Regions from separate parts of the Homo sapiens genome. Here all the other regions are linked to region 3. Evidence: fine-mapped expression QTL. A gene starts in region 3. Each other region holds a variant in brackets. All regions are shown on one strand. Distances are between the middles of the regions.

What was found.
Region 1: its variant is fine-mapped to the expression of E2F3 in whole blood (TOPMed, PIP above 0.99).
Region 2: its variant is fine-mapped to the expression of E2F3 in whole blood (TOPMed, PIP above 0.99).
Region 4: its variant is fine-mapped to the expression of E2F3 in lymphoblastoid cells (TwinsUK, PIP 0.95).

What each region holds. Positions count from the first base shown.
Region 1 is chr6:20,363,196-20,368,344 of GRCh38, forward strand. No RefSeq gene overlaps it. Among named protein-coding and RNA genes, the nearest start is that of E2F3, 36 kb to the right of the region's middle. The variant G/A (reference allele first, on the strand shown) is at 3,154.
Region 2 is chr6:20,422,855-20,428,003 of GRCh38, forward strand. The region is part of intron 1 of E2F3 (E2F transcription factor 3); the gene reads left to right. Among named protein-coding and RNA genes, the nearest start is that of E2F3-IT1, 12 kb to the right of the region's middle. RefSeq lists an enhancer at 4,955-5,024. The variant A/G (reference allele first, on the strand shown) is at 2,052.
Region 3 is chr6:20,399,275-20,404,423 of GRCh38, forward strand. E2F3 (E2F transcription factor 3) reads left to right here and starts at 2,605. Exons shown (of 7, transcript NM_001949.5): 1 at 2,605-3,351. The coding sequence starts at 2,959. LOC124901482 reads right to left here and starts at 3,498. Exons shown (of 3, transcript XM_047419652.1): 1 at 3,151-3,498; 2 at 2,995-3,106; 3 at 1,467-2,888. The coding sequence starts at 3,498. The coding sequence ends at 2,281. RefSeq lists silencers at 2,180-2,419, 3,270-3,739, 3,940-4,559 and an enhancer at 2,518-3,042.
Region 4 is chr6:21,376,139-21,381,287 of GRCh38, forward strand. No RefSeq gene overlaps it. Among named protein-coding and RNA genes, the nearest start is that of LINC00581, 130 kb to the right of the region's middle. The variant A/T (reference allele first, on the strand shown) is at 2,205.

The DNA.
Region 1 (5,149 bases), 36 kb before region 3:
ATATCAATCAATAATAATATGTCACTTTGGCACCAGTTTATTTCAGATGTTGCCTACTGAATATATTGACTGGTGAAATGTTTGAGGTCCTTTTCAAAAAGTAGTAGATTATATAGATTATAAGAAAACGACATCTGCAGCTGCTATATGATGTGTCTAAGGCATTATCATCTGTTGAATTTGTTGACGGATCCTAAGAGAACTTAGCCTTGGGGAGGAGAACAATGGAATAGGTCATCAGAGGGCAACTGAGACAAGGACAAGTTGTGTATCCACTGGAAGTAAGGTATACAGCCGTCTGTCAGGTGGGGGCTGGGACGAAAACCATAGCAGCTTGTTGAGCGCTGTGGAAGCTACAGATTTTGGGCAAACAGGTTCCAGTGATGAACTTTTTTTTTTTTTTTTGAGATGGAGTTTCACTCTTGTTGCCCAGGCTGGAGTGCAATGGCGAGATCTTGGCTCACTGCAAACTCTGCCTCCCGGGTTCAAGCGATTCTCCTGCCTCAGCCACCCGAGTAGCTGAGATTACAGGTGCCCGCCACCACACCCAGCTAATGTTTGTACTTTTAGTAGCGATGGGGTTTCACCATGTTGGCCAAGCTGGTCTTGAACTCCTGACCTCAGGTGATCCACCCACCTCGGCCTCCCAAACTGCTGGGATGTGAGCCACCGTGCCCGGCCCCAGTGATGACCTTTGATGAAACTAGGCACAAATGCTTATTTAGAACCAACCTCATCAACCCACTGGTAAATACACACCAGGCATGAGAAGAGAAAAATGAGAGAGATGGTGGGACCCCAAGGATGACAGTTTGCAACTCTCGGAAAGGAAAAACATGAACATGTTCCTATGTGTTAAAAAAAATCGAACTCCATTTTAATGGCTTTGCAACATCTTAGAGATTTGCTGACATTTATTCATTTTCTTATTGTTAGTCATTAAGTTTATTTCTAATATTTCATTATTATAGATTATATTGAAATATATGCATAAAACTTTGTCTACATTTCAAATAATTTCATTGAGGTCAATCCCTAGAAGTGAAATCATCGGGTCAAAAGACACAAACATTGTAGCAGTTTTGAAACATGACCCTAAAATTCTTTGCCACTCCTCTCATGGAGAACCAGGGTCTATTTTCCCTCCCTTTGAATCTGGGTAGACTTATGACAACATCAACCAAGAGAGTACTCTGCCATTCAGTGTGATGGCTGGAGGACTCATGCTTGGAGCCCTGAGCCACCATGTGAAAAATCGGGCTACCCTAAGGCCACCATGCTGTGAGGAGCCAAGCCACTTGAAGGCCACATGAATCATTCCACATACCTAGTTTTTGTATCACACCAGTCCAGGTGCCAAACTTGTGAGTGAACAAACCTTCAGTGGGTTCTAGGTACAGCTTCTGAGTCACCCCAAGCCTTCAAGTCCCCAGCCAAGGTACTACACATTACAGAGACAAACCATCCCCACTGTAGGCTATCCAAATCTGATCCACAGAATCTGCGAACACAATAAAATGGTTGTTTAAAGCCAAGGTTTCCGGGTAATTTTTTACACAGCTGTAGTAACTGGAACAAACATTTTTAGGGTTCTTGATATATGCTGTCAAATTGTTGTCTAAGCAGCTCATAGCAATTTGGCCTCCCACCTAGGATATATGAGTGTTCCCATCTCACTGCTCTTGATCCACACTGACAGATTTTAGAGTTTATCTCTTTTTTTCTTTTTACAGTTTTATTATAGAAAATAAATATTCACAAAAATTAGACAATAATATATTGAACACCCATGTACCTATCACCCAGTTTCAATAATTCCTGCTTATTTCATCTCTTCTGCTTCTTGTCCTGATTTCTACTTCCTATCAGCAGAGCAGTTATATGTCTTTTCTTCTCCTCCCCTTCTTCCTCCTCCTTCTTCTTCTTCTTCCTTCTTCTTTGAGAGAGGGTCTCACTCTATTGCCCAGGCTGGAGTTCAGTAGCATGATCCTAACTCATTGCAACATTGAACTCCTGGGCTCAAGTGATCCTTCAGCCTCACCCTTCCAAAGCGCTGGGATTACATGCGCCACCATACCCAGCAAAGCTGCTGTATTTCTAGATCACTCTTTTTAAGTAAAAGCACATTTGCTTCTCCTAGTCGGTGAAGACCAGGATTTTCCAGAAATAGCCAGATTAGACACTAAACAAATAAACAGCAATGGAAGAAGAAAGGAAGATAATAGCTACTATGTATTAAATAGGTACAATGAGCTAGGCACTACTCTAAACATATCATACAAAATAACTCATTTAAGTTTCATAGGGACCCTAAGAGGTGGGTAAAATTAATTCTCATCATCCCGTTTTACATATAAGGACATAGAGGTACAGGAAACAGCAATTTGTTAAAATTTGCACAGCTAGCTAGTATGTGGTGAAAACAGAAACTGAACTCAAGCAGTCAGGCTCCAAAGTCTATACTGATAAACACTGTACTACATCATTTTTTCTCCAGGGACACCTGATTCTGTGGCTGGCTACAGCAAATTAGTTAGTGTGGCACATTGATCCGATTCCCTGATCTACCATTACTTCGGTTATTGAGGAGATATTTGAAGGCTGGAGGTATAATATGTTGCCATTTGATTGGGTGGCTGGAGAAGTATGGCTGTTTATGTGCAGAGCCTCGTAAAGAAAAAGCCAGCCCAGGAAAGAATTATAGCTTAATAAGGTCAGGGTTTTTATTTCATAAGGAGTTGGGTCTCATCCATATTAAAAGAAAAAAAAATGTAACCTTTGGATTAATATGGAGGAATGGTGTTGCTTCATAGCTAATTCCTAAGGAAGTAACAGAAAAAGTAAAAAAAAAAAAACTCCTCAAAATCCACCAGCAGCAATCAGACGAGGAAAGGAGCACATGCTAATACCATAAGCCTCCAAAAAGGTGGTACAGGAAGAAAATAAGATTCTGGAGCTAAGCAGGACAGCATCTTGGCAGGGCTACCAATCCCAACTCTTTCACTCATGGGCCATAGAATCCCAAGCATTCTCATCAGTATTCTAAATCTGCAAAGAGCCCATCGGTATGCTTTATCCTTATCTTTTCTGTCTTCTGACTGCAGTGAATGAAAATGGCTGCTGGGGAGAAATTGGGTGAAACAGTCAACTGGA[G/A]TAACATGAATGAGAAGACTCCAGGGCTGTACTCTTAATTGGAGAAGGGAGCCAAAGCCTGTGGAAATGGGTACACCAGAGGGATGAACTGAGATAGAAATAAGCCCGGAGCTCAGGTTTTCTAATGAAGAAACATAGAAACATAGTCTCTGCTGAGCTCCCCCTGCCATGCCCAGAGGGTGCAAAAAAACAGGAAACACCCAGCCGCAAATTATAGCACTTTGGGGAAAACAAACTGGTCTCAGATAAGGTGGGAAGGCAGTCACGAAGTCACCCACACTCCATCAGAGCAAACAGGGGGTTTGACAGAGCTGCCCGAACTTGAGCAAGATGAAAAGAATCAGCCCTGGCAAGGAGGCAGTGGTGCCTGCGGGGATGGGGGTGGAGTGGGGGTGGAAGAGACACAGCCTCACAGAAGACAAACACACACTACAGCCGGCCTGAGAATTCAACTCAAGGAAAAGAAGTGGGGCTGGGTGCAGTGGCTCACACCTGTAATCCCAGCACTTTGGGAGATCCAGGCAGGAGGATTGCTTTAGCCCAGGAGTTCGAGACCAGCCTGGGCAACATAGTGAGTGAGACCTCATCTCTACAAAAAAAATAAAAAAATTATCCTGGTGTGGTAGCTAAATTTTTTCCCCTGAGTAGACCCAGCCACTCGGCAGGCTGAGGTGGGAGGATCGCTTGAGCCCAGCAGGTTGAAACTGCAGTGAGCCATGATTACGCCATTGCACTCCAGCCTGGGTGACAGAGCGAGATCCTGTCACAAAAAAAAAAAAAAATGGCAAAGAAGGAATCACCCTTACCAGAGTCTCAAGCACAAGGCAGAGCAACCAGGTGATGAGGGCTTTCAGAAGAGGCCTACTACAGAGAGGGGACATTGAGGAGAAGAGGAGGGAGGGTAGGAGAATATCCACAGGAGGCTTCCTCTTATCCCTTTGTATGATTCAAGGGAGTGAGCGAGTCAGCTCCCATTTTAGGACCGTTCCATAAACCCTTCAGAAGACAGCTATTTGAGCACCACAACATGTAGGGCAGTAAGCTCTTTTCATGAATGAACTCATCTAATCCTCACAGCAACCTTTAGATAGATATGATTATTGCTCCATTTTAGAGATAAGGAAACTTGCCCATGAGCACACAACTCTGGTCCCAGCAGGCTCTGGGTCCAGAGGCCTATCCATTATACTTCCTTGGCTCTCCTTTACTCAAAGAGAGGTCTAATCTTGCTCCAGAGGTGGAGGACCCCATGGCTTTACCAGGTAGGCAGAAAAACTAACCACAGACTGCCCAGCCTGGGAGAAGTTATGAGTTCTTTGATCCTCCTCCCCACTCCTAACCCCCGAGAGTTGCTGGGGAGAAAGGAGGACAGTGGCTCCATCCGGTTACACTCTCACAAACAAACCATATTTTCTATCTAAATAACCAGCTGAAATTAATCTGCTCTCTATTAAGTGTTAAGATCTTTCTCTTAGGTAAATGAAAATCCCTTCACCAACAGGTTTAGCTTCCCAGGCTGTAGACTACACCCATGCATAAAACACCCACACAGGCACACAGGGCTTGCAGCAGTGTTTTACACAGACATAATTATGACTCACAAATAAGCATGGCTGGAGCTAAAGAGCTCAACTAGAAATTACATAAGCATGGATGACATCCATTTTCTACTTGAGGAGTACTAACATGAAGCATTGTGGATTGGAGATTAAATTAACAGAAGGCAGAGTAGGCCATTTATTTGATGAATTCCTGCAAGTGGGGATCTGTCTTATAATCATGGGTCCACTGTGGGGGTGTAATAGTTCACCAATTAACAATAAACCCAATGATAAACCCAAAGGTTGCTTGCAGGAAGGCCCCTGGCCTGCAAATCAACGACTCTAAAAGTTTTTCTTTCTACACTTCATATCTGGTGTTCTAGAGTTGTTTATCTTTCCATGATCTCATTCCCACCTGTTTGCTGAAGAGAAGTGAGCTGATAAATTTTGATTGC
Region 2 (5,149 bases), 24 kb after region 3:
ATCACCACAACAGACATAATAGTAATGAAAAAGTTTGAAATATTACGAGAATTACCAAAATTTGACAGAGATATGTAGTAAGCACTGTTGGAAAAATGGTGCTGATAGACTAGCTTGATGCAGGGTTGTCACAAACCTTCAGTTTGTAAAACACTGCAGTATCCGTGGAGCACAATGAAATGTGGTATCCCTGTATTGTTTTGCCCAAGCCTATTATGTTTCTTTTGATTTTTCTATGATGTATTTCTTTCTACATATGTTTATTTAGTTTTTATAATGTCATGTGTCACTTAACGATGGGGATATAGTCTGAGAAATGTGTCATTAGGAAATTTCATCATTTTGCAGACATCATAGAGAGTACTTACACAAACCTCATGGTATAGCCTACTATACCCCAAGGTTCTATGGTCTAGCCTCTTGCTCCTAGGCTACAAACCTGTACTGTATGTTACTGGGCTGAATACTGTAGGCAACTTAAACACAGTGGTATGTATCCAAACATAGCAACAGTATAGTAAAAATACAGTCTTATAATCTTATGGGACCACTGGAATATATACAGTCTGCTGTCGACTGAAAGCATCATTGTTTGGCAGATGACTACATGTGACATTACAGTGCTTTTTTTTTGAGACCAAGTCTTGCTCTTGTCGCCCAGGTTGGAGTGCAATGGCACGATCTCGGCTCACTGCAACCTCTGCCTCCTGGGTTCAACCGATTCTCCTGCCTCAGCCTCCCAAGTAACTGGGATTACAGGCGCCCACCACCACACCCAGCTAATTTTTGTATTTTTAGTAGAGACAGGGTTTTGCCATGTTGGCCAGGCTGGTCTCGAACTCCTCACGTCGTGATCTGCCTGCCTCGGCCTCCCAAAGTGCTGGGATTACAGGTGTGAGCCACCACACCCGGCCATTACAGTGCTTTTTTTGAGACAGAGTTTCGCTCTTGTTGCCCAGGCTGGAGTGCAATGGCCTGATCTTGGCTCACTGCAACCTCTGCCTCCCGAGTTCAACCGATTCTCCTGCCTCAGCCTCCCGAGTAGCTGGGATTACAGGTACCTGCCACCATGCCCGGCTAATTTTTTGTATTGTTAGTAGAGATGGGGTTTCACCATGTTGGTCAGGCTGGTCTCGAACTCCTGACCTCAGGTGATCCACCCACCTCGGCCTCCCAAAGTGCTGGGATTACAGGTGTGAGCCACTGCACACAGCCGAAATTACAGCTTTTACAGTTTGAGTTTGGTGGCTTGCTTTGGGAAGGCCTTTCCTAATCTGCAAACCATAACAATATTCTATATATTTTTTCTCCTGGCTTCATAATTTTATTATTTTGATCTTTAACCTCAGTGGAAGGGTGTGTGTGTGTGTGTGTGTGTGTGTGTGTGTGTGTGTGTTTTAAAGGTGTGACTTTATTTTTCCTAAACGAATAGCCAGTTAAACTAGTGCCATTTATTGGATGGTTCCGCTTTCCCCACGCATGCACTTGAAATGCCCTTTTCTCAGAGAGACACAGAGAGAGTGTGTGTATGTGTGTGTGTGTGTGTGTGTGTGTGTACATGCATACATGCATGTATGTGCTGTGTGCATGTGTGTCTGTGTTGTTCTGTCTCTGAACTTTCTACTCTGCTCCATTGATACCTTTATCCCTTTGTAAAGAAGCAGCACACTGTTTTGAATACAGTAGCTTTGTGATATGATTTGCTATAGATAAGGAAAATCTGCTTCCTGTTACATACTTTTTTTTTTCATTAAAATTACAGTTTTTATGTTCATGCTTACTTGCATTTTTACAAATTGAGCTTCTTCTCCCCCATCCACTGTGAGTTTAGGGTTATAAGAAAAAAAACTCTCTGCACTTATTAGATAGTCTACTGCACTGGGAATAGCAGTAAGCTGTTTACATTTTTTCTTTCATCTGATACAACAAACCTTGAGAGTTGGTGCCAATATCCTCATCTGTAGATGAGGAAAGTGAGGCTCAGTGATGAAGCAGTTTGTCCAAGGCTGCATTTCTGGACATTGGCAGAACCAGGGTTCCAGACCAAGTCC[A/G]GGAAATTTCGAAACCTCTCTTAACCATTATGCAACCCAGACACGTGGGGTTTTCTCACATGACGAGGGCAGGCCATTGTCTAGGGCGGGTTATCAGGTGTTTCTCCATGTCCTGCAGGGCGGTCAGTGGCTTTTACAGAGTAGAGTGTTTATTGCATGAAGGGAAGACCTAGCAAGATCTCTCTAAAGGATTTATCCATTGGGGCAGCAAGAGTTGAAAAATTTGGCTTTGCCAAGGGTATTTGTTCAGATTTAGGATACAAGTCAAGTTGGGACCACAGGCTAAAGTTTAAGTGAGTGGGGAGAGAAATTATTTACCCAGTGCTTTTTTTTAATGCCAGACACTGTAACCCTTCCTCGGCTCTTTTCTAGAGTTGGGTCTGTGGTTTGGAATACAAAGGTGAGGAATACACAGCCCTGGACATTCAGAATGGGGCAGTAGGCTGGGAGGAGCTGTGCGCACAACCCCAGGAACCTTCTACTTTTTTTTTTTTTTTTTTTGAGACAAAGTCTCGCTCTGTCACCCAGGCTGGAGTGCAGTGGCACGATCTTGGCTCACTGCAAACTCTGCCTCCTGGGTTCAACCGATTCTTCTGCCTCAGCCGCCTGAGTAGCCAGGACTACAGGCGTACGCCACAATGCCTGGCTAATTTTTGTATTTTTAGTAGAGACGGGGTTTCACCATGTCGGCCAGGCTGGTCTTGAACTCCTGACCCTAGGTGATCTGCCCGCCCGCCCCGCCTCGGCCTCCCAAAGTGCTGGGATTACAGGCGTGAGCCACTGCGCCCGGCCCCTTCTACCTTTTAGAAGAAAATGCAACAACGTGTCTTAGCTCTCTAGTGGAGGAACAGAGGTCTCAGGTGGATCCAGAAATGCTTTGCTATAGAGTGGCATTTAAACTGGGACATTCATGTGTCTAAATTACCTAACAGTTTGAGCCCTCCCTTCCCCCGAGGTGGTTGCTTCTTCATTTGAATTCTCTCAGGTGCCTTCTGTTGGTTCTTAGAGGTGAACATCAGAAAAGTAATTTTCTTTGGAGAAGTTTGAAGCAGCCTCCCAAACAGAAGTCCTGTTGAGCTCCCACTGGGAGTTTTGGAAAAGTAATCTCATTTATTAGGAATAGTGTATTGATTTTGTGTGTAAAATGGACTAAGAGGCCTGTGACAATGAGTCCATTTGAAATTGCAAATTTAAATATCTAATACAATAGTTGTGCGGAAATACTACACCAGAATATAAATGATTAGCTGCTTAGTGAATTTCTCATGTGCATGTAATTAATTGGCAGTGGTGGTGGGGATCAAGTTTGTTTTCATATCCTGAGTCCTTTAATTTACCTTTTCTTCAACAATTACTGGTGTAAGTATAGGGGAATTAAATCTTAGTGTCTTTTATAAAAATATATAGTTTTGCTTTGTCATTCATTTATTGTTTTTTGGTCTACATTATCCAATTTTGTATTACACAATAGAAGGCACCTAATCAAAGATTTCTTGTTTTTACTGCATGATTGCACTCTTAATTTTGTGAAAGCATAGGTTTACTTCCAGACTGAGAGGTAAATGAATAATTATTTTGTGATTTATTTAGCACTTGCCGCCCCAATCTTGTTTTTCACGTCTGCAGTTATGGCTGAAATATCTTATTCCATTCCCAGCCTCTCTGTTGGTGGTATCTGCCTGATCTCCACCTAGTGTCATTGTGGGATCGTGGCCACACATGGGCCTTCCAGGGCTGTGCTGTTGGTGACCAGTGGTGCTTGTAACCCTGAAGTGTTGGCATGGCCTCAGCTGACTGGGCTTTCCCTCATGCCCAGGGCTTAAACTTGAACTCTGCCTGCTCTGTTAGCAGTTTTTCTCTACATTTCTTTTAAAATAGACTTTCACTTCTTCCTTCCCATCCCCCCCAATACAACTGCCCTGGCATCCTGGCTTTTTCCATTCTTGACAAATGATCTGTCCACTGTAACTGTAGCTCCACTGTGCTGATATCTGTTGAAATTAGACCTAGAATCTAAATGTGGCTCCATGAAACTATGGGTGAGACATTTTTTTTCTTCAAATAGTCTATGGTTTATTGGCACCCCAAACCACCTATCCATACCTTCTCCACTGTGATGCTGGGGGAAGAAAATGGGGTAATATATGTGTAAAAGTGACTGAGAATGAAAAGTTCTGCATAAGGTACAATGTTAGCTGGGGTTTTTGCATATATAATAAGAAGACAAATGTTCACTACCACTCCTGCCTGCCTTCCCTGGGCATATCGAACTGATTCCAGCCTAATAGCATTTCTTATCATATAATGGGAATCACAAACCCTCCCTATGTCCACTCCTACAGCGCCTTCTTACCCTAATGAGGCTTTGTAACTCAAAGATTTAAACATCTCATTTATGCTCCATTGACTGAGTTAACCAAACACTTTGTATTTGGCCCTTTCCTCTTAGAAGTTCAGAACAATAATATGGTCCTGAAACTACTCCTGCAAAATCTGCTTAGGGAAGAAGGGTCGGCCAGGGCAGGGGTTACATTGGGGTTTGCAGTGTAGTCAGGCACCAGGGACCTGGCAGGTTGGGTGGGATCAATTCTTTTCACCTCAGGGCTCCAGTTTCTCATTTGTCAAATAAAAGTGATTTCTAAGGCCCCCTTCTGCTCAGACCTTCTGTGACTGTCCACTAAGCCACAGAGACTCACTGTGGCCATTGAATTCTTGGGGACCTCAGGGAGGTTTTGCTGCCGAAGTGACTGCCCATTCTGCCGGCATACATTTGGACTACCATTTGAGGTGACTTGGAGAGAATGTCACTGTGGAAGTTGGCCTTCCTGACACCTGCCACACACCTTCCATGCCATGCATCTCCTCTTTTCGAAGTCCTAGGAGCTCCTTGATGATATTTACTATTTACATTTGCATCTCTGATAGTGCTCTTTCCAAGTGAGTTGGCAGCAGTTCATTTAAATTCTGAAGCAGATCTCTGAGTTAGGGTTTGGTTCTTCTGGCCTTTGAGATGGGTGCTGCCCAGCACAGCAGGCCTCGGTGAACACCGCTGTTCACCAAGGGACTTTGGTCCCTCTCCTGCAACGATTCAGTGAACT
Region 3 (5,149 bases):
CTCCCAAAGTGCTGGGATTACAGGCGTGAGCCACCACCCCTAGCTATATAGCTAGTAAATGGCAGAGCCAGAATTTAAACCCAGATCACTCTGACTCCAAAGCTCATTCTTTCTGCTAAAACATGCTACCTCTTCCACAAATTAATAGCCTACCTTGGATTTCAGCATCTTATCTTCCACTATCTTCTCTCTTTGAACTCTTCTCTCCACCTACTCATCCTAGAGTTCACTAGACATAAAGTGTCAAAACATCTGTTTCTCTACCAAATACCCTATATTAAAAAAACTTGGGTAAGGTAGAATGATAAATATCTGAAAGCTTTCTAAAGCAGAATTGCAGGTGTGGGTCTAGAGTGTGAACACTTGCTTTCTTGTGGCTGTGTCGTATTTATCTTATTGCAATCACTTGTGGGGAGCTCAAGCCAGGATTCTATGCACAGCCCCAGTCCCAGGCTGGTCTCTAATCATAAGGCGCAGGTCTATAATTACTGTGTATGTTGCACCACTCCTCCCTCACAACCCCCACTACTGCCACCAAATGCAAGCTGCCAGTGATGCTCTGCAGATGGTAATATCCAAGTAGTGACAGTACTAGTTTCTTCCACAGGTATATCCATAGAGGAAAGCAACATTGATGGAACAAGAGCAGGGAAGCTGCTGGTATATTACACTTCTAGCTCATGCCCTTTGAGTACCACTTAATCTGCCCTAAAGATAGTGTCACTTCTGGCCAGGCGCGGTGGCTCATGCCTGTAATCCCAGCACTTTGGGAGGCCAAGGGAGGCGGATCTCCTAGGGTCAGGAGTTCAAGACCAGCCTGGCCAACATGATGAAACCCTGTCTCTACTAAAAATACAAAAATTAGCTGGGCGTGGTGGCACGTACCTGTAGTCCCAGCTACTCAGGAAGCTGAGGCAGAAGAATTGCTTGAACCCAGGAGGCAGAGGTTGCAGTGAGCTGAGATCGTGCCATGGCACTCCAGCCTGGGCAACAACAGCAAGACTCTGTCTCAAAAAATAAAGATAGTGTCACCTCTACCAGTGTCGACAAATGTTTAGGGCTATGGATCCTCAACTAGCCTGAATGCAAGACTAAAATATTCCTGAGCCTGGTGCAAGGTTTAATGGAACTTTTAACTCATCTGTTTCAGAAAAGGTAACAAGGCTAAAATATTAAGGAGTCCTAGCCTGATCTGACACATCTTGTCAGGTGTTTCATAGCACTCTGAGTAAGAGTTTTGGGAAATTAATAATAGTAATAAAAATCTTGTGAAAGGGCTCAAGGTGTTGCAATCCTCATCACCTATGAGCACCAATTCTGCAGCTGTTTTGCACGTAACTATAAATTATGATCTAGTCTCTACATACATAACTTCCCCCACATTCCTGCAGGGGTCTCTTTTCCTGCTCAATCTCAGGAGCAAGCTTTAATTTTAAGACCCATGAATACTTGAACAAATTCAGGAGTCAGTTTGACACATCATTTTATATTTTTCTGATGACAATTTCTAGTTTACTTTTTAAAAAAAGACACTATTTTAAAAATACTTTGGGATAGGTTTGAGTCGTTGTGTTTGCTTCCAGTCAGAGAACTTCCTACAAAACTGAAGATATAAAGTGCTGATGCCTGGGCGTGCCTGCGTTCGTTGGGGGCACGACGTCATCGTGGGAAGCGTGTACTTTTTCGGATTACTGCTTGGCGGATTAGAAACCCGTAGATCAGTTCTAGGTTAGCCCTGATTAACTGCCCTGGGTGTTTCTGGGCCAGAGGGAATGTCTGCTGGATTCAAACCAATATCCGTTGTAAGACAAAAGAGTTAATTTGTACTTTACCCCTATCCAGGCTAATAATGAAGGTACCGGGAATGATCTGGAATGTTAACTGGTGCCCGCAATCGCGTCTGCTGAACCTTCTGCCCCCACGATTCTGTCTGCCCACATGCTTCTGTCTATCAGCCCCGGCCTCGGGATCAGCTCTCGCCGCGTCATTGGTTGGATTTCAGGAAGGGAGAAGCCCACGATTTAAAGGGCTCCTTTTGCACCTGCCAGACATCGTCCGCATGGTCCAACTTGCCTTTGGCACGTATCTGGAAAAATCTCCTGCGCTGTTCGTTTATTGCACTGACTGGTCAAAGGAAAGAGTGTTCCCTTAGTCACCTTGACAATTTCCAAAAGCGAAACTTGGGCTCTAGACTAGATCTACACTGAGTCTGCGGGGCGCGGAGTCCCTGCCCAGGTCAGTAGCGCCGGCCCGGCGGGCGGGCGGGGACAGGGGCGGAGCCTAGGCCAGGCGTGGTCTTCCGTGGGAGAGAAGGAAATTCTTTGCCCCACCCCCTAAAAACTGCTCTTCTGCCAGCCAATCAAGGAGGCCTATGCAAATAGGGTCCCTGTCGCCCCGGTAACCATGATGCACGGCAGCCAATGGAAACCAGCAAGTCGCGGCCCTGCTCCATGATTGGGACTGAAGTAAGGAGGTAGCGGCCCAATGGGCTGTGGGAACGGTCCTCGGCGGGTTGAGGGGCGGGGATATGCAAATATGGTTTGAAAAGCCGGCGGGAAATCCGAGTTTCGCGGGAGGACCTTGGCGCGTAAACCGTATCCCTTCATTCATTGTCAGCAGCAGCTTCCTGGAGCCATTTTTCAGCTGCCGGCCGCAGCACCCGGGCTGCCGCCGCCGCCTCGCAATCCGTTGCATCGGCCGCCCCCGACGCCTCCATCCCCGCTTGGGGCCCGATATCCGTGCGGCCGGGACCCTCCTCTCTCCAGAGCCCCGATTATTTTTGGCCCCCGGGGCCTGTGCGGTGCGGAAAAATAAAAAGAAAAGAGAGAGAGGGGGCTCGGAAGCGCCGGGCGGGGAGGAGAGAAGGAGGAGAGACTTGGAAACTCCGACTGCAAATAATAAAGAAATTGAAAACAATACATTAATATACCATAACACTAAAAAGAGCAGGAGCGAGAGATGAGAAAGGGAATCCAGCCCGCTCTGGAGCAGTACCTGGTGACCGCCGGGGGTGGGGAGGGGGCGGCTGTCGTCGCCGCCGCCGCTGCAGCCTCCATGGACAAAAGGGCACTGCTAGCCAGCCCCGGCTTCGCCGCCGCCGCCGCCGCTGCCGCCGCCCCGGGCGCGTACATCCAGATCCTCACCACGAACACTTCCACCACCTCCTGTTCCTCCTCCCTCCAAAGCGGCGCCGTAGCCGCCGGCCCCCTCCTCCCCAGTGCCCCCGGCGCGGAGCAGACCGCCGGCAGCCTCCTCTACACCACGCCGCACGGACCCTCCAGCAGAGCCGGGCTGCTGCAGCAGCCACCAGCGCTGGGACGCGGCGGCAGCGGCGGCGGCGGCGGCCCTCCGGTAATACCCTCCCTCCCCACCGTCCCCAGCCCCGGCGGGAGGTGGGCTCGCACCGCGCGGGGTCGTGGGCGCGCTGCGGGCCGCTCGGGGAGAGCACTGGGCCGAGCATCGTGGGCCTCGGGGGCTGCCCCTCCAACGAGGGTTCATTGTTAGACCTGAGTGCTCTTCCCGGCGCCAGGAGGGTCGGGGGGCTCGGCCAGGCGCGCGGGGCGGCGGGGATTGCCTTGGCGCGAACCACATCAAACACTCCAAAACTTTTCGCGGCCCCCCCTTCTTTTCCTGCACTTTTCCCTACCCCCACTCTCCCTTCCCCTCCAACTCGAAGCTTCCTCTTTCTCGGGCGTAGGAAGGGGTCACGCCCCGGATGGAGAAGGGGGTGGGGGAGGGAGTAGTGAACTGGGGTGTGGGGGGCTCTGAGGGGTTGAAACCGGGGGACTGTTGGGGTGCTAGCCCCCAGTCGGCCTTGGAGGCTCGTTGGCGGCCGGGGGTCCCTGCGGCGTGCTCGGAGCGCAGGGGATCGGCGGGGCTGCGCTTGACACATTTTAGGATCTGTAACTCCCGGCAACAAAGGGGCTGGGGGAGGTGGAGGGGAGTCGGGCGTGGGGGAGGTGGGGCTGGAAGCCGGGTGCGGACTGGGGCGTGGGCTGTCTGGGGTGAGGGGCTCGCGGGCTGGCGCTCTGGCCTGGGCGCATCCTGGCAGTGGCAGCGGCGGCGCCCGCGTGGCCCAAGCGCCCAGGCCTTCCTCGCCGGGCCCCGGGCCTGCCCTTGACCCGCCTCTCCCCTTGCCCCTTCCTTCCCCGCCCTGTCCCCCTCTCCGCCCCCCGGCGACGGAGGGCGGGGGCAGCTGGGTTCCCGTCCCGCCGCCTGGGTCTGTCCCTCTCTCCGGGACCCGCCGGTGACGTTTCGCACACGTGCGCGCAGGACGCGCCTGTGACTGGGGAGGAGGCGGCGGCGGGAGGGGGCGCTGGAGGGGGAGAGGGGGGCACCCACTTCCTCCTGCTCGCCGGCTCCCTGGCCTGGGACGGTCCCGGCGCCCTCGCACCCGCCCCCGGCACCGCCACCCTCCCTCTCCTCTCCCCACCCCCCCACCGGCGCCCGCCCTCGCCCTGCGCCGCCGGTCTGTTCGGCCCTCCGGGCCCCCTCTCCAGCCGGCCCCCCACCTCCCCCCGGAGCCAGGCTGGTTTCGGAAATGCCCTTACAGCAGCAGGTTAGTGACCGGGACGGCTCGGGGGCCGCCGACGCCGCGGGGGCACCGGATTCTGTTGGGGGCTGAAGCGGTGAGGGTAGGCGGTTGAGCGGGGTTTTGGAGTGGGAACGGGGGGTTGGGTGCTCGAGGGAAATGAGTAAGCAAGAAAAATCTAACTAAGTAAATGCCCCGGCCTCCGGTTCTAGGAACCTCGGGGCGGGAGTGTCTGCCCCAGGGGGTGGGTATGGTGTTTACGTGGATTTTTTTTCTAGGGGGCGGATGGATGGGCGATAGAAAACCGGAGGGGGCTTCTCGCCAATGGCCGAGTTGAGCTCTGTTTTCTGTCTTCCTTCCCTTGTGCTGGAGGGGGAGGGGGGTGGGTCAGAGGGTAGGGTGTCTGTAGGATTCCCAGGCCACCCGCCACCCCCTCCCTTTGTCCCTGTAATTTATAAAGCGCCTTTGAGAGATGATTTAGGTCAGTATGCGGCTTCTCTTTTTGTTGGTACTAGAAAGAAGTGTGGCCCGGAGGTCTCCCCTTTCTCCTTTTCTCTCCTTCATTCCCTTCCTCCATGCCTCCGGGTCTTCACCCTCGTGGTGAGGCTTGGCCTCCAC
Region 4 (5,149 bases), 980 kb after region 3:
ATGCTGGAGCCCTTCCATGCAAAGCTGAGAGGGGAGCTCAAGGCACATTGGAGGCATGATTGGAGCCCACAGCAGGAGGGCCGCGGGCCCTGGGACAGGAAGCTTCTCTGCTTCTCTCTGGTATCTACGTGGGTCACGGGCTGATACGTGTAAGAGTCCCTAGTTATGTAGTAAGTCCTCAAGTCAAGCAAAATGAGATGTCCCCTGATACATTTACTCCCAACACTTAATCCCAATGATTTCTATGATACATAGACTATATTTGTGCCAATAAGCCTACAGTAACTTAGTTTGCAGGTAAAAATCCCCATTTGTGTACACATAACTTATTTTAGAGCACACATTTGATTATACATTTGAAATCAGAATTAGGGGCCAATTATGAGAAATGGAAAAAATAAGCTTTTTTATTTTTTCAGACAGGGTCTCACTGTGTCACCCAGGCTGGAGTGTAGTGCTGCGATCATAGCTCACTGCAGTCTTGACCTCCTGGGCTCAAGCAATCCTCCTATGTAGCTACGACTACAGGTACACACCACCATACCTGGATAATTTTGAAAATTTTTTGTAGAGATGGGGGTCTTGCTGTGTTGCCAGGCTGGTCTTGAACTCCCGGCCTCAAGCAATCCTCCTGCCTTGGCCTCCTAAAGTGCTGGGATCATAGGCATGAGCCACCATGCCTGGCTTACTTTTCTTTCTTGATAAAGGTTATCGTGCCTTGGAATTCACTTTGTTGGTTTAAGAAGTAAACAATATGATAGGTGAAAAGAGCTAACTTGTTCTGTAAACAGTAGGCATTGTCTTGGGTGTTGGGAGAAATGGGAATTAAAAGGTGGTAACTTAGAAGATTTAAGAGATCTTCCAAATCTAAATCATTAGTTTCAAAGATGGAGATGTGATTTCCAGTGTGGTCAAGGGATTTGCTCAGGTAGAGCAGCCTGTGGAACCCAAGCCTTCAACTGTGGTCCATTGTTTTACTACTGTTTATATTCCAGGCCATATCGGGCACAGAGTAAATTGTGTCTACACACCAGGACTTCTGCTGCCAAAGCCACAGACTCAGAAATGGTAGATGGGGAGATGCAGGAGAGGTCATCAAGGCCTCCGGTCATACTTTTACAGACAAGCAAAGTGGTTTGGAGAAGGGAAGGAAGGGAAAGAAACTACCATCAGGTAGAGCAACTAAGGACAGAACTAGTGTCAACAGGAAGTTGCAACAAAGTACTGTAGGAAGAAACCACATTCGGGAATTGCATGACATTTTAGGAAGAAATAGCATCACTTGGAAGGACCCTGAAGAAAGAAAGGGATAAAAAAGTCAGATGGGGAAGCAAGGGAAGGGACAAGAGCTCAGAATGCCATAGACATGCTTGAGATGTTTGTGGCCTGGTTCGTTGTCATAGATAAAGCTGAAAGATTGCCTGGAGCCAGGGCACGGGGCTGTTGTATGTCAGGCTCAAGGTGTGTCACAGTGTGTCACTGATGTGATTGGACGGGTGAGTGCTATGATCAAGCCCATGTTTTAGGAGGATTCATCTAGAAGCAACAGATAGGATGGATACACGCAGGGTAAGAATGGAGTTTGATTCTTGCCGTAGTAAAGGGAAGTGTTAATGAGGATGTGAACTGGGGCAGTGGCAATTATGACCTTTGGGATACACAAGCTGGAAGTGAAGCTGGGTCTGGTCAGGGGACAGGATGAGTTTGGTTTTGAAACTAGTGCATTTGAGATGCTGACGGGCCGTCCCCATGGGAATGTCCAGCTGGCAGCAGAGAAAATGAGCCGGATGGTAGGAGCAGTGGATTCGAGAACAGATCCTAAGGAGCTCCTGTGTTTAAGGCCAGGGGAAGGAGAGGGATGAGGGAAGGAGACAGAAAAGGACGCATCCCATGTGTGAGGGACCACTGAAATACAGCATCACAGAAGCCAAGGAATCAAAGAATTTCAAGGAGGAGGAGGAGCAGTAGCAGTGTCACCTGCTGCAGCAAGGCCAGGGCTCATGATCCCTGGGGCTGGGGACATCGCTGGTGTCAGCCATACAGGCAGCGTGTGCAGAACAACTCAGAACCTAGGCATTGAAGCAAAGGAGAAATTTAAGCTTAGGCCAAGGGAGTAGTATAGCTGAGGGAAGGATTTTGAATATATATATATATATATGTATATGTATATGTATACACACACACACACACACACATATATATAT[A/T]TTTTTTCTTTTTCTTTTTTTTTATATGGAAACTAGCTCTGTCACCCAGGCTGGAGTGCAGTGGTGCAATCTTGGCCCACTGGAACATCTACCTCCCAGGCTCAAGCAATTTTCCTGCCTCAGCCTCCCGAGTGGCTGAGATTACAGGCATGCACCATCATGCCCACTTTGGTTTTTTGTATTTTTTGTAGAGATGGGGTTTCACCATGTTAGCCAGGCTGGTCTTGAACTCCTGGCCTCAAGCGATCCACCTGCCTCGGCCTCTCAAAGTGCTGGGATTACAGGCGTGAGCCACCACACCTGGCCCTTTAAAAATACGTTCATTCATTTATTCATAGACATTAGCGATGGAAAGACATAGGCCTGTCTGTCAGTGAGGGATAAGGAGAGAGTGCAGAGACTGAAGATGTGAGCCGGCTGGGTCCGTGGAAATGGTTCAAGGACGGTTGGAGAAGGTGGAATGAACAAAAAGCCTTGGCTCAGGAGAGGCCCACTTTTCCTTCAGAGACAAGATGGAAGCTGCTGGTAAAGCTACAGAGGAAGTTAGAAGAAAAAAGATGTTGTTGGCCAGGTGCGGTAATCCCAGCCTGTAATCCCAGCACTCTGGGAGGCCGAGGTGCGCAGATCACCTGAGTCCAGGAGTTCGAGACCAGCCTGGGTGACATGGCAAAACCCAGTTATACAAAAATTAGCCAGGCGCTGTGGTGTGCGTCTGTGAGTCCCAGCTACTGGGGAGATTGAGGGTGAGTCTGGAGGCAGAGGCTGCAGTGAGCCAAGATTGTGCCACTGCACTCAAGCCTGGGTGACAGAGCGAGACCCTGTCTCAATAAAAATAAAAAAGAAAAAGGATGTTGTTTCGTGGGTGCAGAATTTCAGTTTGAAATGATGAAAAAGTGGCCGGGCACAGTGACTCATGCCTGTAATCCCAGCACTTTGGGAAGCCGAGGCGGGTGGGTCACCTGAGGTCAGGAGTTCGAGACCGGCCTGGCTAGCGTGGTGAAACCTCATCTCTACTAAAAATACAAAAATTAGCCAAGTGTGGTGGCGGGCGCCTGTAGTCCCAGCTACTCGGGAGGCTGAGGCAGGAGAATTGCTTGAACCCAGGAGGTGGAGGTTGCAGTAAGCTGAGATCGGGCCATTGCACTGCAGCCTGGGTGACTAGAGTGAAACTCTGTCTCAAAAAAAAAAAAGAAGACGAAAAGTTCTGGAAATGGACAGTGGTAGTGGTTATGCACAATGTAAATGTCCTCAAGAACACTGAAATGTACACTTAAAGTGGTTCAAATGGCAAATGGCAAATGTTATGATATGCATATTTTAACATGAGAAGAGAGAGAGAGGATGACCTTAATTTTTCAGTCAAGTAGAGGGTGAGGGTGAGGGCTGAGAGGTGGGCCCTTTGTGCATGAAGATTCAGCAAGAAGAGCTTTTGAGCACCCGTATCAGGGAATCCATAGCAAGCCCAGGAGAACTGGGGGCCAGAATGGGCCAGTCGAGGGGTGGAGATAAGTGAGCCTCCTTTCTTGGTAAATCCTAATCCTATCATGACCCTTCTTTGCTTAAATCTCATCAATGGCTTCTCATTTTTCTGAGGATAAAATTCTAGCTTCTCACCAATACCTCTCAGGCCAGGCATAAGCAGAGCCCTGCTCTGCCCTCCCACCCTGTCCCACACCACAGTTCCCCAAAAGTCCTTGCTTCAGCCACATGGGCCTTTGTGGGCCTTCAAATGTGTCAGGTGCATTCCCTCCCCAGGGCTTTTGCAGATGCTGCTCCCTCTCATCCTTCAGGCTTCAGCGTGAACGCCTCTCCTGAGCAGCGCCTCCTCAGGCCACTGCTGTTGGAATGGCCTCCCTCTTCCCATCTTCCTTCATCCCAGCACGTCCTTCATAGCCCTGGTCACATTGTGCAATGGTATCTGTGTGTCGTCTGTGGCTGTCCCTCTACTAGTCTGTAAATGTGACGGATGTAGGGACCTCTGGGTCTGTCCTGACTCTATATCTCCAGTGCCCAATAAAGCTTTAGGAAACTTGGTAAATATTGGTTAAATGAATGAATGAATGAATGGACCAATCATCTTGACTTTTCACAACAATGTCCAGCAGCCCAGGCATAAGAGAAAAGAAAGCAGACGGTGGTGATAACACCGGACCAGGACTGAGAGTGGGGAGGGTAAGGAATTACCGCTGTGAGGAAGAACCCTGCTGATGAATGATCCATTCTGAAGCCCAGGTTGGAAAGGGCAGTAATTGCAGCCAGGAAGAGGTAGATGGGCTGGATGAGAGAGGTCGTCTCAACAAGTGAAGGAATAGACATTCGTCATGCCCAGGTTTGTAATGAAGTGTTCAGTATGTGAGAATGTGTATGAGAAGTTGTGGGGGGAACTCTGGATTCAAATGAAATGGATTTATGAACCCACTAGGACCTTGAATAGACTGACTGAGACGAAAGTACCCAATCAAGAGATGCAAATATGCATGTTTATTTCATATTTATGCTCTTCATAGCAAATTGAGGGTTGTCAGGCCAAGGAGCCCATTAGACTCCTGCTCCAATTTACTCTGGGCCCAATATGGCCTGGAACATAAACAGTAGTAAAGGCAACTATTGAGCACTTGCTCTGAATCAGTGCTTGCACTTCACACATTAGCTCATTTAATCCTCACAATAGCCCTCTAGGGTAAGTAATTTTCTGAAGATCAGAAAGCCAGCAAAGTGGTGGAGCCCCCATTAAACCCAGGCCTCTCTGCCTGCAGTTACTGGACTTTTCCCATTCAGCCAGATTGTTACCAAGCATATGAGCCTTCACATTCATAGTCGCTGCTATTAAGGAGATTACAATCCTAATGCATTTGCAGAGGGGATTGAAATTGAAGGTAAACTCTTACAAGGTTTACAGAACACATATCTTCTATGTGCTCATATGAGACAAATAGTTCACCCAG